2 linked regions of the Homo sapiens genome follow. The protein of the gene in region 2 interacts with the protein of the main gene of each other region in a pairwise test. Each region holds a gene or a part of one and is shown on either strand. Other genes may lie near its edges.

Region 1 (7,999 bases), on a different chromosome or scaffold from region 2:
AAAGACAATAGTATCCAGAAGGTCAAGGAGGTCTATTTCTGTAAATGTGGAATGGTGGAAAGACCCTGGGCCTTAGACAGGCCTGGGTTCCAATCCAGCCCTGTCACTTACATGTTGTGACCTGGGGCAAGTAACTTATCCTTTTGGACTTAGTTTACTCATTTGTAAAATGAAGATAATACCTAATTCACAGAAGTTTTGAGGTAAATGAGATAATTCTAAAGAACAGAAGGAATTCACTGATTTATAAGGGAAATGATATGAGCACAGTGTTCAAGAGTGTGAAATGCTATAAGATGGTGAATTAATCTAAGACCTGGCATAGACACTTGATTCAAAAACAAAGATGTCATTAGTGACCTCTGTGAAGGTAATTTTGGTAGTGAGAATAGCTAGCCTGCCATAGGAAATGAGAAAATGGAGAGTGAGCATAAATGACAAATTTCAAAAAAGTAATACATTGAATGGAACAAGAAAGATAGGGCAGAAACTAGAAAGGGCTAATGTAGAGTATAAGTATTTTTGTGACTTCAATTACTGTCCTTATGCTGATGATTTCCTTATTCTTCAGGTCAGATATCTCAAGTGTCAGACCTGAATTTCCTTCTGCCTATTTGGGACCAGGATACCCTACAGAAGCCTCTCAAATCCAACATGTCAAAAATGAACTCAGACAATTCCCTACCATCCTTTGGGGCAGGCCCTTGGTATGTGGGGATTTAGCATTCTTGATTTTGACTATGCTTGAGTATCCCTATAGATCAGTGAAACACCATCTGTCAGCTGCTGACACATGCCTTTGAATCAATGTGCATGCGGTAAGTGGGAGAACGGGAGAAGGCTCACTTAATCAGTGGCTTAGCCTCCAAACAGTTTGCTGTTATATATTCCTGAATGTGTATATAGTTAACATTTCCCAGCTGATAATTATTTTTCTTAGTCAAAATGAACTTAAACTTTAAAAAGCCAATTCCTAGTATTCTTAATATAAGTAAAAAAGTCCAAGAAAGTGATGATTATCAGTGAAACCCCGTGTCTACTAAAAATACAAAAAATGAGCCGGGTGTGGTGGCACACGCCTGTAGTCCTAGCTACTCGGGAGGCTAAGGCAGGAGAATCACTTGAACCCAGGAGGTGGAGGTTGCAGTGAGCTGAGATCACACCACTGCACTCCAGCCTGGGCGACAGAGTGAGACTCTGTCTCAAAAAAAGTGATGATTATTAGCCAGAAAATAAAAGATTGGTATTGTAATGGTTAATTTTATGTGTCAACTTAACTGGCCACAGGGTGCTCAGATATTTGGTCAAACATTATTCTGGATGTTTCTGTGAGGGTGTTTTTGGAATGAGATTAACATTTAAATTGGTAGACTGTTGACTAAAACAGACTGCCCTCCATAATGTTGGTGGGCCTCATCCAAGCAGTTAAAAGTCTGACTAGAACAAAAAGGCTGACTCATCCCTGAGTAAGAGAATTCTTCCTGTCTAAAATGCTTCAAACTGAATCATCAGCTTTTTTCTTGCCATCAGACTTGGAACTAAAACAGCTCTTACTGAATCTCAAGCCTATGGCCTTCAGACAGGAACTACACCATCAGCTCTCCTGGTTCTCAGGCCTTTGGGCTTGAGCTGGAACTAAACCATTTGCTCTCCTGGGTCTCCAGCCTGAAAACTCACTCTGAAGATACTGAGACTTGCCAGCCTCCATAATGACCTATGCTAATTCCCTATAGTAAATCTCTTTCTAGATCTCTACCTATCTTTACCGATATAGATACCCTAGTTATACAAATAATGACACAAATACAGGCATATGTATATATATACATAATTCGTATTATTGTTTAGGTATATATACCTGTATTCGTATTTTTTATATATACCTGTATTCATATTATTATATCTATAGAGATATCTATACCCATATCAGTATATATCTATGCCACATACATATATATATACTGGTATCTATATCAGTATTGGTATATAAATAAACATGTGGTATGATGTTGATATGTATATATAGGGTATGATGTGTTTTTTTTTTTTCTTTGAAATGGAGTCTGCCTCTGTTGCCCAGGCTGGAGTACAGCAGCGCAATCTTGGCTTACTGCAACCTCCGCCTCCCGGGTTCAAGTGATTCTCCTCCCTCAGCCTCCCGAATAGCTGGGATTACAAATGCCTGCCATGACACCCAGCTAATTTTTGTAATTTTAGCAGAGACAGTGTTTCACCATGTTGGCCAAGCTGGTCTCGAATTCCTGACCTCAAGTGATCCACCGTCCTCAGCCTCCCGAAGTGCTGGGATTACAGGCATGAGCCACCGTGCCTGGCTGGGTATGAGGCTGAATTAGTGGTGAGTTCATTTCTATAATGTGATTAAATATATCAAACACAATATATAATAAATAATTTGATAAACTGTTTTGGGAGGAGCTCCATCTACCCAGCTATTTGAGCCAGAAAACTGACCATTCCTTCCTCCTTTCATATCTCATGTATCTGATCAATCAAGTTCTATTGATTCTATTGCTTAAATATCTCTCAAATCAATCCACTTCTCATCCCCTTTGCCATTGTCTTCTCCTACCTAGACCACTGTGACAAACAGACTGGTCTGAGACACCAATCTATTTTCCACACGCAAACAGTGATCATTCTAAGGAGGATATGAAATATTATTATGTCCCTGCTATGCCTGTTACATATAATGGCTGATTATTACCCTTAGGATCAAGTTCAAAACATTTAATATGGTTTACATTGTTTTTTGATCTAATAAAGTACTTTATTTCATCAAATTTGCAATACTCCTTCTTGCTCCTTGGCCCTTCCACAGCTTATTCCTTCTGCTTGGACCACCCTCCAACCCTCCAATTTTCTTCTTGTTAATGCCCACTCACACTTCATGTCTCAGCATAATAAAACAATGAGCCAGGACAACTATACTACATGTTTCACATATATTAATTATTTAACCCTCACACAACCCTATAAAGAAGACACTATTCCTAATTTCTTCGTGCAGAGAAGGAAATTGAGACGGGGAGAGTTGAAGAACTTACACGAGGTACCAAAGCTAAACCTCAGATCTTTTCTCCAGTATCTCTTGCACCCACAGGCCCAAAACCTTGGATTTATATTTGCCTTCTTACTGTCACACCCTACATCTGACCCAGTAGCAAATATTATTGTCTCTATTTTCAAAGCAGATCATAATCTGATCACTGGCTCAAGATATCCTTATCTCCCACCTGAATTACTTGGAATTTTAAAAAATTACTCTTAACTTTTAAGTTTTCTTGATTCCATTCTTGCCCACTTACAATCTATTATCATCATGAGTCTCCAAGTAAAGAAGCTTTAAAACATAAGTCAGATCATGTTTTCTTCTGCTCAAAATCCTCCAAAAACACACACCAAAAAAAGACAAAATTCCTTACACGATACAGTTCTCATTTCCTCTACACTCTTCCTCTCCATACCCCAATCTCTCTGACATCATTCCCTACAAAGGTCGCCTTTGTTCACTGCTCCAACCGCTCTGGTCTCCCCGTTATTCCTCAAATATGCCAAGCAAGCTCCTGCTTTAAGACCTTTGCACTTGCTATTCCCTCTACCTAGAAAGTTCCTGACCGCAAAAGCCACTTAGGTCTTTCCACCCACCTCCTTCAGATTTCTGCTCAAATATTACCTTCTCGGTGGCGCCTACCTTTAATATCTACTTAAAATTGCGCTGAATGGATGAAAAATATGCAGCAGAAGGTTGTACTCTGTTTACCAGATCCACAGCTTCATCACTCTCATAGGCCCCAGGGCCGACACCTCCGCTACGGACCCCGCCCCCTCGGTCGAGGGAAGATTCTCTGCACCCGCCGGGAAGCAGCTGCTCCCTAGGCCCCTAGGCCGCAGTTCCGCCCCAGCCCGGGGCCCAGCTCCAGGGTCCGCTCACCTGGTCAAGGGGCCTCAGAGGACCCAAACGCTCTGAAACAGCGTCTTAGCTCATCGCCGAGTGTCAGCTCTAGCTCTTCGGAGCGCTTTCTTCTCCGCTCTAGGAACGCTGGAGGACCTTGGCTCGATGGTGCTGCCGCTTAGGCATCGCAGAAGGAGACTAACATGGGTGCTGCCTGCTGAGGACGGCTGGGAGGGTCATTTCGTTGTGAGCTAAGATTGTTGGGGTTTTTTTTTTGTTTCTGTTTTTGTTTTTGTTTTCTCATTTTAAAGTGGATGTTTATTTTATTCATGTAAAAACAGGCCAGCTCCGTTGAGTGTTATCACAAACAGCCAACATTTTCACTTTGCTCACATAAATAAAACACACATACTTCGCCATTTTTCGCAATTTAGAAATTCATCAAACACAATGGCAAAAATAATTGTCAAAGTATTTCGAAAATTAAACTAAACAATGGACATACGTTTGGATTGAAAGGTTTAAGGTAAGAAGAAATTAGGGCTATTACTGTGAGAGAAAATAAATCAACAACACTTTGCAATCAATGTAAGTTTCAGGGGGAATAAAAGCAACAGATATCACTTTATCAAAATAAATTCTACAACAGAGAACAGAAATAGTCTCTCTTGCCCACAGTATCACAAACTGGGTTTTTATAGTTTTTGAATAAGATAAACTCTTTGAATGCTTATACATTGCTAGTGGGAATGTAAATTAGTTCTGCCACTGTGGAAAGCAATTTGGAAATTTCTTAAGGAACTTAAAACAGAGCTCTCATTTGACCCAGCAATTCCATTATTGGGTATATACCCAGAGGAATATACTGTTCTACCATAAAGACCATGCATGTGTATGTTCATCACAGCACTTTTCACAATAGCAGAAACATGGAATCAACCTAGATGCCCATCAGTGGTGGACTGGAAAAAGAAAATGTGGTACATAACACCATGGAATATCATGCAGCTAAAAGAATGAGATCATGTCCTTTGCAGCAACATGGATGCAGCTGGAGGCCATTTATCCTAAGCCAATTAACACAGGAACAGAAAACCAAATACTGCATGTTCTTACTTATAAGTGGGTGCTAAACATTCAGTAAACATGAACACAAATGGGAACAACAGACACAAGGACTTCTTGAGGGTGGAGGGTGAGAGGAAGGTGAAGATTGAAAAGTTACCTATAAGGTACTATGCTACCACTTTGGTGACAAAATCATTTGTACACCAAACCCCAGCAGTATGCACTTTATTCATGTAACATACCTGCACATGTACCCACTGAACCTAAAACAAAAGTTGGAAGAAAGAAAAAAAAACCTTTAAAAAATCTGAACAAACTTTTGTGTTTAACTGATCAGTTGACAGAAGCTTTGAAATATCATTAAATATACAAAACATTGTACTGACGTGTAATTTATTCAGTGTTTCAAGCATTGAAATTATCATAACAGAAAAAAAACAACCAGTTTCATTATCACAAGCAGTTATCTTTTCTTCTTAAGTGTCTGAATGTATCTTTGAAAGCATATTTTTAAAGTAAAAATTAAATATGTTTACTTTAAAACTTTTCATAAGGCCAACAAATCTAGTCAATATGTGTTACTAATTAGAAGTCAATATTCTTTCTTGAGAGGAAAACTCATATATCTTATTTTTTAATATCTAGAAAAGGACCTTTTCAAAAATTATATAAGGGATAAACATAAAGAAAATTTAATTTAAATAGAAAGTAAATACTATATCCTATTTACTCCCCCTCTAAAATTCCCTACTATGACTAGTTTCTTAAATCTGTCACTTTTATTGTCAAGGCTGAGATTATTGCCATTGCACTGGATATCCCATGAAAATCAAAACCTTTAAAGTAGCTAGACAAAGAAGAGTTTTTTTAAATTTTCAAGGTGTGCATTTTTCATTTAAACAGTCTGTTTGTACCTTTTGGGAGGGGTAGGGGTAGATAAGGTGAGAATAACTCAAAACACTGTTATCACCAGGAGAGACAAAATACTAAAATACAAATCAATTTTCAAACTTGAGGTTTTCATTTTCCAGGATTATCCTTATTTTTGTAAACTATAGTGATCATGTTTCTGCCAGGTCCATTCATACGATATTCAAGATAAGAACTTTCTTTTCCATATTATCAGTAGAGATGCTATCGCATTATGAGTCATGTCACCATGCTCCAGCATAAGATTTACAGTTCTTATCTTCTGGTAATGATGCTTCCTGCTCTTCTCTCTGCTTCTTATACGTATACAGCAAGGTCTCATTCATTACTCTGAGTTTTAAAATAAGTTATTTGTCCAGTGATCGTTCTAAACAATCAAAGCCTACAAATGAATCTAACAAATTTATAGCTTAATATTAGGAACCTATAACTTTAAGTCACCCATATTAGGCTGATAAAGAAAAATCATATAATCTCCACAAATGCTACAATGTCATTTCATAAAACTCAACATATATTTCTGACTAAAAGCAGAAACTCCTAATAAAAAATAAATAGATGGATGATTCCTTTATAAGGCAAAAATAAATACATCTCAAATATACCAAAAACCTCCCTTATATTTGATGGTGAAATCTTAGACATATCCCCCATAAATTCAGATTAAAGTCTAGCTGAATTCGTTAGGCTAAGAATAAAAAGAGCAATTTTGCTAAATGTATGATTTCTTACTCCCTAAATTGCTGGTGGCTAAGGTTAAGAAACACCTTCCCTTGTGCTACAGAACTTTAAAACAAACAAACATGAAATACACATTAGACCCCTTATGCCAGTGGGAGATTTTTATATTTTGTGAAACACTACTTTTGATAATTCCACAAAGTCATATAATGATGGTCTGTGAGAACATTAATGCTATTTCATAAAATGTATCAATTGTAAATCAGCACAGCCTCACTAGTTTGCTTTCTTAGGCTGTTTCTCAGCACTGAATAAAACTCAGTGTAACTCTAGTGGCTAAGACAAGTTATTTGATCTGTTCAACTTCCTGCTTGAGCAGAGTGAAATAATAAAGTGATTCTGATGGTTTCTTGAAATGTAAACGTAATACAAAATTTTCGTTATACTGTTTTTCTTCTATTTCACAATCCATAGCTACATACTCTGGGCAAAACTACTTCAAAGGAAAAGTTGTAACCCTTTTTATTAGCTCCCCTGAGACAACAGTGATCTGCAGTCATATTCCAACTCTTGAAATCTCTTTTAAGGCAGATTTATTGGCCAAGTCCCTCTCTAATAGCAACATTAAATGGCAAGTTAAGCATAACTACAGCAAAAAAGCTATCATGAGTATTCCACTGTAGGCATTAGACATACTATTTGTTGCATGGTGTGTATTTTATCTTTCTGGGAAAGAAGCTCACCGATCTTACCTTGGCTTACTTAGAAGTCAGTTTCTCAGCTGCATCTTCTTCCAAGCGAGAAAGATAAAGATATTTGTTTGGCCACTGTTAGAAAACCTTTTTAGGCTTTAACGGGCATTACAGTCAAGTGTCTCTCAGAAAAACAAGTCAAAGGTAAATAACACGGAGATATATTTGCAAGATATTTGATAAAGATCTAATTTATTAAAGAGTTTTTATGACCAGTTAAGAAAAAAGACCAACAACGCTATAGAAGAGTGGACAAAGGTTATCAGAGGAGCAGTTCACATACACACAAAAGAATTTCAAAAGACTCGTAAATACATCTATGAAAGGATGCTCTATCTTACTTTTAATAATAAATACAAATAAAATGCCATTTTCACCTTAGATTGGGAAAGATCAAAAGGTTTGAAAATACAATATTGGTGATGATGTTGGTGAGTGTGTAAACATAGAAGGTGGTGTTGCAATATCTACTAAAATTTAAAAGCACACACAGCTTAAATCTGGCATTCTTAGTCTTTCCTTGACCACTATATCAAAAAAGTTCCCCCCAATTCTGTCTCTAGCCCGTTACTTTTTTCACATCATACTGTAATTTGTAATTTTTGCCTGTTGGCTTTTATAAGTCTGTCTCCCCCAGTAAAATGTAAAATTCTAT
Region 2 (8,254 bases):
GAGGGGCTGTTGTTAGGTACTGAGCTATAATACTTTGTTGCTTTGTATCACTTTTAAAAGTGACTTTTAAAGATACTTGACATTTGAAAAGGAATCACCTTTGATCTTTCTAAGTCCCTAATTTGACATTACCTTTATAGCATATAATTTATTCCATAAAGTCTTAGATCCTGAAACTAGTGGAAAGCCAAATACTCATGTTGTGCTATAAATATAGGATTGACAGTTAAGCTTACTCAGTAGTCAAGGGGGCGGCTTTCACTCACCAGCCTCCAGGGCATATGAACCAAATTTATGATTCAGAACATTTAAAATATACATTTTGAAGATCTTTGGGCTCTCTTAAGTATAGTCTAACTATAATAAATATTAAACATGTCAAAGGTCTCTTGCAGTGTTGGGAAGAGCATTCTAAACCACATACATCTTTCCCATCCCCAGATTGTTCTGTGTCCCCTCCCACTCTTCCCAGATTAGAAGTCACCATGGAGCACTATTAGTAATGGGACTCTGTATCAGATCTTTAAGGTGTATTGGGACAGAAGAAAGGTTGATATTTTGGGGTTGTTTGTTTTTTTTGAGACGGAGTTTTCACTCTTGTTGCCCAGGCTGGAGTGCTATGGCGTGATCTTGGCTCACTACAATCTCCGCCTCCCTGGTTCAAGCAATTCTCCTGCCTCAGCCTCCTGAGTAGCTGGGATTACATGCGCCCACCACCATGCCCGGCTAATTTTTGTATTTTTAGTAGAGACGGGGTTTCATCATGTTGGCTAGGCTGGTCTCGAACTCCTGACCTCAGGTGATCTGCCTGTCTTGGCCTCCCAAAATGTTGGGATTACAGGTGTGAGCCACCATGCCCAGCAGGTTCATATTTTTAATGTTTCCTTCTACTCCCCAAGCACACACAAATTTGAAAGCTGCTTTGCTTTCTAATAAAGAGGCTTTTCCTTTGATTTTGGAAGATAATTTGATGTCTCTTTTCTCTTTGCAGGTATATGAGCTCCCTGAAAGCACAAAGCAGTTATTTCCATCTTCAGATCATTCAGAGATTATGAAGGCACAAACCCTGCCTTCAATTTGCTTATAGTCAAGTGGAGCAGACACAAGTCAATGATTGCAGTATAGCCACTGAAGTAATCTAAAAGAGGTGAGTGTGGCACTTAACCTCTCCTGGGAGGGGGAGGAATAAGGCAGTGTTTCCAAGAGGTGATTTTGGAGCTATACAGGCATTAGGTAGACAAGGAAGGGGAGGTCCATTCTGGGTGCCTAGGACTCTGTGGCTGATTTATAAATCGTAAATGGTACAAAAAACAGTGTTGAGTATCTTTTACCTTTCTCCAGAGTACTGTTCTTACTTTTGGATAGTGCTTCTTGTTTTTTCCTTCCCTCTCCCTGTCCCTGTCACCTTTAAATTAAATGAATGTTTGGAAGGAAGTAGGAGGGTAAGAATCTTTCTGGGTGGCAGAATAATAGATGGGTCTACCAAGAGCGATGTATATACCCAGTAAAGCCATCTCTAAAACTGTGTTTCTGCATTGTTACAGTGCATAGTTGGGAAATCTCAGTTTTGTTGGCTGTGTACTTTCCCAGTGAATGGATTATATTCCTTTCTGCGAGCCAGTCTGTTTGAATTTAAGGGCATCTCTTAAATTCCTTTCAAGCAAGAGACCTAACATTTATACTTAGGAATGAGAGTAGTAGAGACAGCAAGATTAGAATCCAAGTTCATATACCAAAACATTTTTATTTGCTATGTCTGAGTGACTACATGTTGTTTGAATCAACTGCAGGCTAATTTGTAACATTTCAAATAAATGATAGTTTAATTCCTCCAGGATTTGAGTAAGGTGAAAATAGAGCTAAAAACCATGATTCTGTCACAGTCTGGGAAAATGAAAAAGCAATCAATTAGTGAGTTGGGCTTAATTTTTTTTTTTTTTTTTTCTGGAACTGGTGATAGCAGAAAACAAGCAGTAAAGTAGTCAGACATGATATACTTGACAAGAACCACCACCTGTTCAGTAGCAACTCTAAAATAAGTACTAACTTAGGGGCAGTTGTTGTGCCCAGGTCATAGTCATACTCCTTCCAGGAGACTTCCTGATGACAGAAAAGATGCTGACCAGCTGGGGTCTTCTTTCCAAATAACTTTTCTCTTGCATTTAGATTAATTAACCATTGGTTACAGTGAAACAAGCATATGTACAGAGTTAATCTCCTATAGCTTGAAGTTATACATGATCTTTATTTGAGTATCTTGACTTGTTAAAGGACAGTGTTTTAAAAGCTGGATTTGGTTATGTTCTTCTGGAGACTAAGAAAATAGAGTCCTTGAAATCAAGCTGACTCTGCTTTTAGCCTCCTAAATGAAAAGGTAGATAGAACAGGTCTTGTTTGCAAAATAAATTCAAGACCTACTTATCTACCAACAGCAATTACACGCTTTCCATTGTCTTCCTATAGAAAATAGGAGTAGTACACTTATAGATGAGAAAACTGGAGAAAGACATAGTGAACATGTGAGAATCTTGCTCTACTAATTGATAGGAAGGTGACTAGAAATTGGCGAAGTTTTCTTGGTAAGTTGAGGAGAGGACTTTTCTTATAGTGCAGTCTGGTAGCTGAACCGCCTTGCATCAAGACCAATGTAGTCTTATTTACAGAATGCCACATCACAGTGAATTGTGCTGTGGACAGCTTCCAGTGTGTGAGTTGTGGAAGATGATGATTTTAACAGATTTTGGAGGATGAGAAGTATTAAGAAGAAGGCCCCACTGTCCATGCATTTGCTCTGCTTTTTACTTTTGACCAAGTATACACTTCAGAAATATCTTATTGGATGTATACAAAGTGATTGTGTGTCATTTGAACCAGCAGGAAGTAATTTATTAAACACACTTTTCTAAATAAAAGTCATTTAATTTTATCAGAAATCAGTGTCATTTTAGATTGCAAGTCTCAAACCAACTTTCCAATTCTGACTTGTAAGGGTGCCTTAAATCCTGAATACTGTACTCTGTATTACTAAACCCATGTTAGTTTACGCCAAGATTCTGTGGTGGTTTTACATATTCTTTTTCCCCTTTGTTAAGGTGGGGAGGCCACAGCTTATGTGAATGACTTTCTCAGGAGTTATAAAGTGATACAGGTAAAGCTAAGAAAAGAACAGATTTTGATAACTTTTGTTTTAACTGTCCAGTGTTAGGGATTGTGGCTACAGTGGTCTAATTTTTAAAAACTCTTTTTTTTGCTTTGTTTTTTAACAGACTTATCAGCAGGTTGCAGGTGAACATGGCCTTGAGGTAAATCTGTCCCTTGCTGAATACAGTTTCAGTAGATTGTTTATAGTAGTTTCAGGAATTGAGATTTTTTACAAAAATACAAAAGTTTTGCTTGGTTCTGTTCTAGATGTTTTCTTCTAAATAAATGAGAAAGATGTTTCAACAAAGGCTCTTTATGCTGAATAATTGTGATGCTTGAAGTTGCTAATCTGCTTTAAGTGGATTTTAAATGTCAGGCAATTCTAGACAGTTTTTTCTTGGTCAAATAAAAATTTAATTAAAACTTTATACGTGTTGAGTTTTTAATCCATTTATCCGTGTTCATACTAACGTGTAGTATTCCATAAAGCCTATTAGAACCCTGAATTCAAACTTGCCTTCTCTGTGATATCCTGTTTCTTACTTGGTAGTTTCTATTTCAGTAGCTGAGAACTTTTTTTTTTTTTTTTTTTGAGATGGAGTCTTGATCTGTGAGCCATCTCGGCTCACTGCAAGCTCCACCTCCCGGGTTCACGCCATTCTCCTGCCTCAGCCTCCCGAGTAGCTGGGACTACAGGCGCCCGCCACCAGTCCCGGCTAATTTTTTTGTATTTTTAGTAGAGACGGGGTTTCACCGTATTAGCCAGGATGGTCTCGATCTCCTGACCTTGTGATCCATCCACCTTGGCCCCCCAAAGTGCTGGGATTACAGGCGTGAGCCACCGCGCCCGGCCGAGAACATTTTTAAATATACATGATATGTATCTTTTAATTGTTTATAACTGGAACTATTTCTGTGCTTACATCTGCTGTCCCTTGTTTCAGAGTAGACAGTCCAGCTTGGCAGGATAGGTGTGTGTGTGTATAACGAGTTATTAAATTGTCAGTGTGAATTGTTAATTCAGGAATCTGAGCTGCCATTTATACGAGTAGGCAGAGTTTAGTAGGAGATGAGAGTCTTTCAGTTTGTCAGACTTTGCAGGTGCTGGAAAACATCAGAGGTTTTTTGTTTGTTTGTTTGTTTGTTTTTGAGACAGAGTTGCGCTCTTGTTGCCAAGGCTGGAGTGCAGTGGCACAATCTCGGCTCACTGCAGCCTCTGCCCCCGGGTTCAAGCAATTCTCCTGCCTCAGCCTCCTGAGTAGCTGGGATTACAGGCGCCCACCACCATGCCCGGCTAATTTTTTGTATTTTTAGTAGAGACGGGGTTTCGCCAGAAAAAAGAAAAGTGGACTTTTTTTTTTTAAACACAAAACCTTAAATGATGAGATTAGGGCATATCTGGGTTTAGAGGCATCTGTGGGACATGATACTGAATTGTAATTGCTTCACAAATGGAATTATTCTGCAGCTTCACTCACAAGCTTTGAAAATGCTGTGTGTGCAGAGCTTAAGTGGCAACTGGAAACTTGAACAGGAGAACCAGGAATGTAGCTGATGGAGTTGGGCATTGAGCTCACAGAATGGCCTGGGGGCAGTGAGGCAGGATGCCTGAAAGCTGCCTAGCTAGAGATCAGTCTTCCTTCCCGTGCTCAGCTTTGCCCTTTGGTGGGCTGTTAATTTCTTTTAAAAAATTGTTGTGCATTTGCTAATATGCCACAGATGCCCTTCTGTTCTTTCACGCTGCCTCCATTCTAGGTTTTTTCCCATTTCTTGGCCATAGGTCCTTTGCTGTAGTTTTGAAAGAGCCCTGCCATCCTTCACATGGAGAGCAGTAAGAGGCCAAAGAGCAGTGGCTGAAGAAGATACTAATTTATTCAACAAATACTTGGTGACAGCTGTTATGTGTTAGCCCTTGGTGATCTAGCAATGAACAAAACAGGCACTGTCCCTCCCTTCATGGAATTAGGCATTATAGAGGTAATTTCAAAATTAGAGAGTGGTGCATACTGTGTAGGAGTGGAACAGGGAATACCCTGTATGCAGAGTACACAGTGGAAGGGACCTCACCACAGTGCTGCTCACTATTGGGAAAACGAGGGTAGAAGACATTGAGAAGGGCACACAGCTTCCCTGGTTCTCTACAGACAGCCTCTCGCCTTCTCAAGTGTATTCTTGGCTGACTCATGAAATGCATGGGTGTACTGGTGCTGCTGGAGCCATTAAGACTACCCTCGTCCTCTCCCAAGCTCTCTAGGTCTTGGAAACTCAAGATATTTTGCATATACACGAATATAGTTTGACAGCTTCAAAGACTTTTGAGTTCGTTTAGTCTGAGCCTTTATTTTACAGCTGGGCCTGGTAATGACTATCCTAGCAGCACACAGGTAGCAGCACACAGGACTAGAATCCAGGTTGGGTGAAATGAGCGCTAGCACACCAGTCAGATAATAGCATGAGCCATAAATTGTGCTGGGCACATGGTGCTTAAGTGCCAGGTTCAGCCAGCTAAGGCGTGAGCAGCTGCGAGAGGGGTAGGCATGGAAGACAGGAAACTGGACATCAGAATGTTCTAATAGAAAGTGACATGTTTTGGCATTGAAATGCCATTATGTACCTTTAGACACCCAGGCTTTTCCAAAGAAAAACAGGGATGCACAAATTCGTGAAGCTGACAACTAAATGTATATAGATGCTGAGAAAGGTCCACATTGAAAAATGACAACTTTGAATGTTCATAGTCTAATAGAATGCCAATCTTCTTTGGTGGAACTGTTATTCTTATATCTGGAGTTGTTCTGTTGTGCAGAAATTCATACTTATGCCTGAAAATTAAATTTGACATAATAAAGTTTCAGTAATTCTATAGATTGACTATTTATAGAACATTTCATACTAATTTTATTCATAGTCCTATGATTTTGCTATTTTCTAGTATTAAATGACTACCAAGGTGACAAGCCATTTCTAAAACTATACTCTCTAAACTATCTCTTTTCTAAAATTTGTCCTAAGAAACATTTTCTTTTTTTTTTTTAGATGGAGTCTTGCTCTGTCACCCAGGCTGGAGTGCAGTGGTGCAATCTCGGCTCACTGCAACCTCAGCCTCCTGGGTTCAAGCAATTCTCCCACCTTAGCCTCCTGAGTAGCTGGGATTACAGGCGTGCACCACCAAGCCCGGCTAATTTTTGTATTTTTAGTAGAGACAGGGTTTCACTGTGTTGCCCAGGCTGGTCTCGAACTCCTGAGCTCAGGCAGTCCACTTGCCTTGGCCTCCCAAAGTGCTGGGATTACAAGTGTGAGCCACTGCTTCTGGCCGAAACATTTTTCAAACATCATTTTTTCTCTAGCAACCTCTTAACCTAAGAAATTTACCTATAGCATCCTGAACTCTCTTTCATCTAAACTAGCATAGGAATAGAACATGTTTTTAAAATTTGGATTAGACATTTGAAACAGGGAACCTTGTGATTTTCCATGTGATAAAATGGGCTTCTTGGTATAAGCTCTTCTATGCACAGTTACTCCAGTTCTTAAACTTTCATATTGAGTGGGGAGCCAGTGGGCCTGTTACCAATCAATACTATATCACTATCCATGCTCTACATCCTGTGTACTTTGAAAAATGGCAGAAATGAAAACCTGTCACAGGAATTTCCTAACCCTGCTACCTACAGATATTTGAAGAGCTCTTTGTGTCAACAGGCTAGTCTAGGCTACTGGGATAAACACTTGGAATATGATCTAAACGTGTCAGAGGAAGCCTGCCTGTCTCTAGCCCATTTCACCTTAATTTAACTAAGCAGCTGCCAGAAGCTATGAGTCGTTTCTTCTACTTTCTATGCTACCACCAATAAAGTCTAATACTATGAGCCAAAAATGCAAGTCTGCTAGGAGACCTTATCCTAGGATACCTTACCTTCATTCTCCACTTGTAACGTGTGTGCACGTGTGTGCGTGCACGCACACACACACACACACACACCCTACATCTGTAAGAAACTGGCTTGGCTCTAGCACTTGGACTGTAGCTTTTGCCCTTCTTTTGTCATTCTTCTGTTTCCACCCCTCTTCTATTGTGTCTTCTTACCCCCTTTATTCTTCCCTCTACACGTGGACTTCTAGGCTTTCTTTATGCTCCCTTAGTTTTACTCTGCCCCTTGTTCTTGCCTTTCTAAAGAAGAGACTTTGCTCTTTAGTCTTACTTCAGGCAGAATCCCCAAATAAAGTATCTGCCTCAGTGTATAGTAATTCTTGGATTCCCCAAACTGGGTGTGAGGTTTAGTAGATTTCATTAGAGTCTTCATCTGTTATCGGAGGGGAAGTTGGTTTTCCCACTTATGCTTGGGCATGACACATAATGTGTAAATAACCATGATAGAGGATCATGGGCAGAGAGCATTGGATGAACATTAATAGGATTCATCAAATCAAGGAGGGTCAGAGGCCCCATTTTACAAGGTGTGATAGGAAAGCAGTGTGGGGTCTTGTTTTTCAGTTTTTGAGGTGAAGGAAGGTTGTAACCATGGCCTTCTAAGTCTGAAAGTGTATTCATTGGCCTGGGCTTCGTGAGACTTTTTTTCCCACTATATGGAACTACTCCATGTGTAAAGACAGAGTGCCCAGCAGCAGGAGCAAACCAGAATTAGCCATAACTACTAAGCCTCTTGCCCACATTTACTTAAAAAGATGGAACTGGGGCTTCAAAGCAAACTGTATTGGCTTAATACTAAAGGTGAACAGAAATGAAAAATCTATCACTTAAGTGGTTAGGAATGAAATCTTTGGAACCAGACTGCTTGAGTTTGAATCCAAGTTCCAAATCCATGTCGTTTGGATTATCTAATTGCTGTGAGGTGTGGTCTTCTTATTTTTATTCTTTTATTTTATTTTATTTTTTTATTTTATTATTTTTTTTTTTTTAGAGACGGGGTCTTGCTATGTTGCCCAAGCTGGCTTTGAAGTCCAGGGCTCAAACAATACTCCTACCTCACTCTCCTGAGTAGCTGGGACTACAGGTGCACACCACTGCACCCAGCATTCTGATTTTTCAAATGAGATAACACAATTGTGAGAAGTAAATGAGATAATGCATGTAAGAGTACTTGGCACATAA

The links.
Region 1: the proteins of FSD2 (region 2) and ZSCAN26 interact in binary tests that used the Homo sapiens proteins (3 or more experiments, as listed by UniProt).

What each region holds. Positions count from the first base shown.
Region 1 is NC_000006.12:28,263,167-28,271,165, reverse strand, and holds the start of ZSCAN26 (zinc finger and SCAN domain-containing protein 26), read right to left. Parts: upstream 4,024-7,999; 5' UTR 3,953-4,023; exon of another isoform or gene 3,713-3,952; intron 1-3,712. UniProt on the Homo sapiens protein: May be involved in transcriptional regulation.
Region 2 is NC_000015.10:82,753,638-82,761,891, forward strand, and holds the end of FSD2 (fibronectin type III and SPRY domain-containing protein 2), read right to left. Parts: intron 5,964-8,254; coding exon 5,711-5,963; 3' UTR 1,725-5,710; downstream 1-1,724.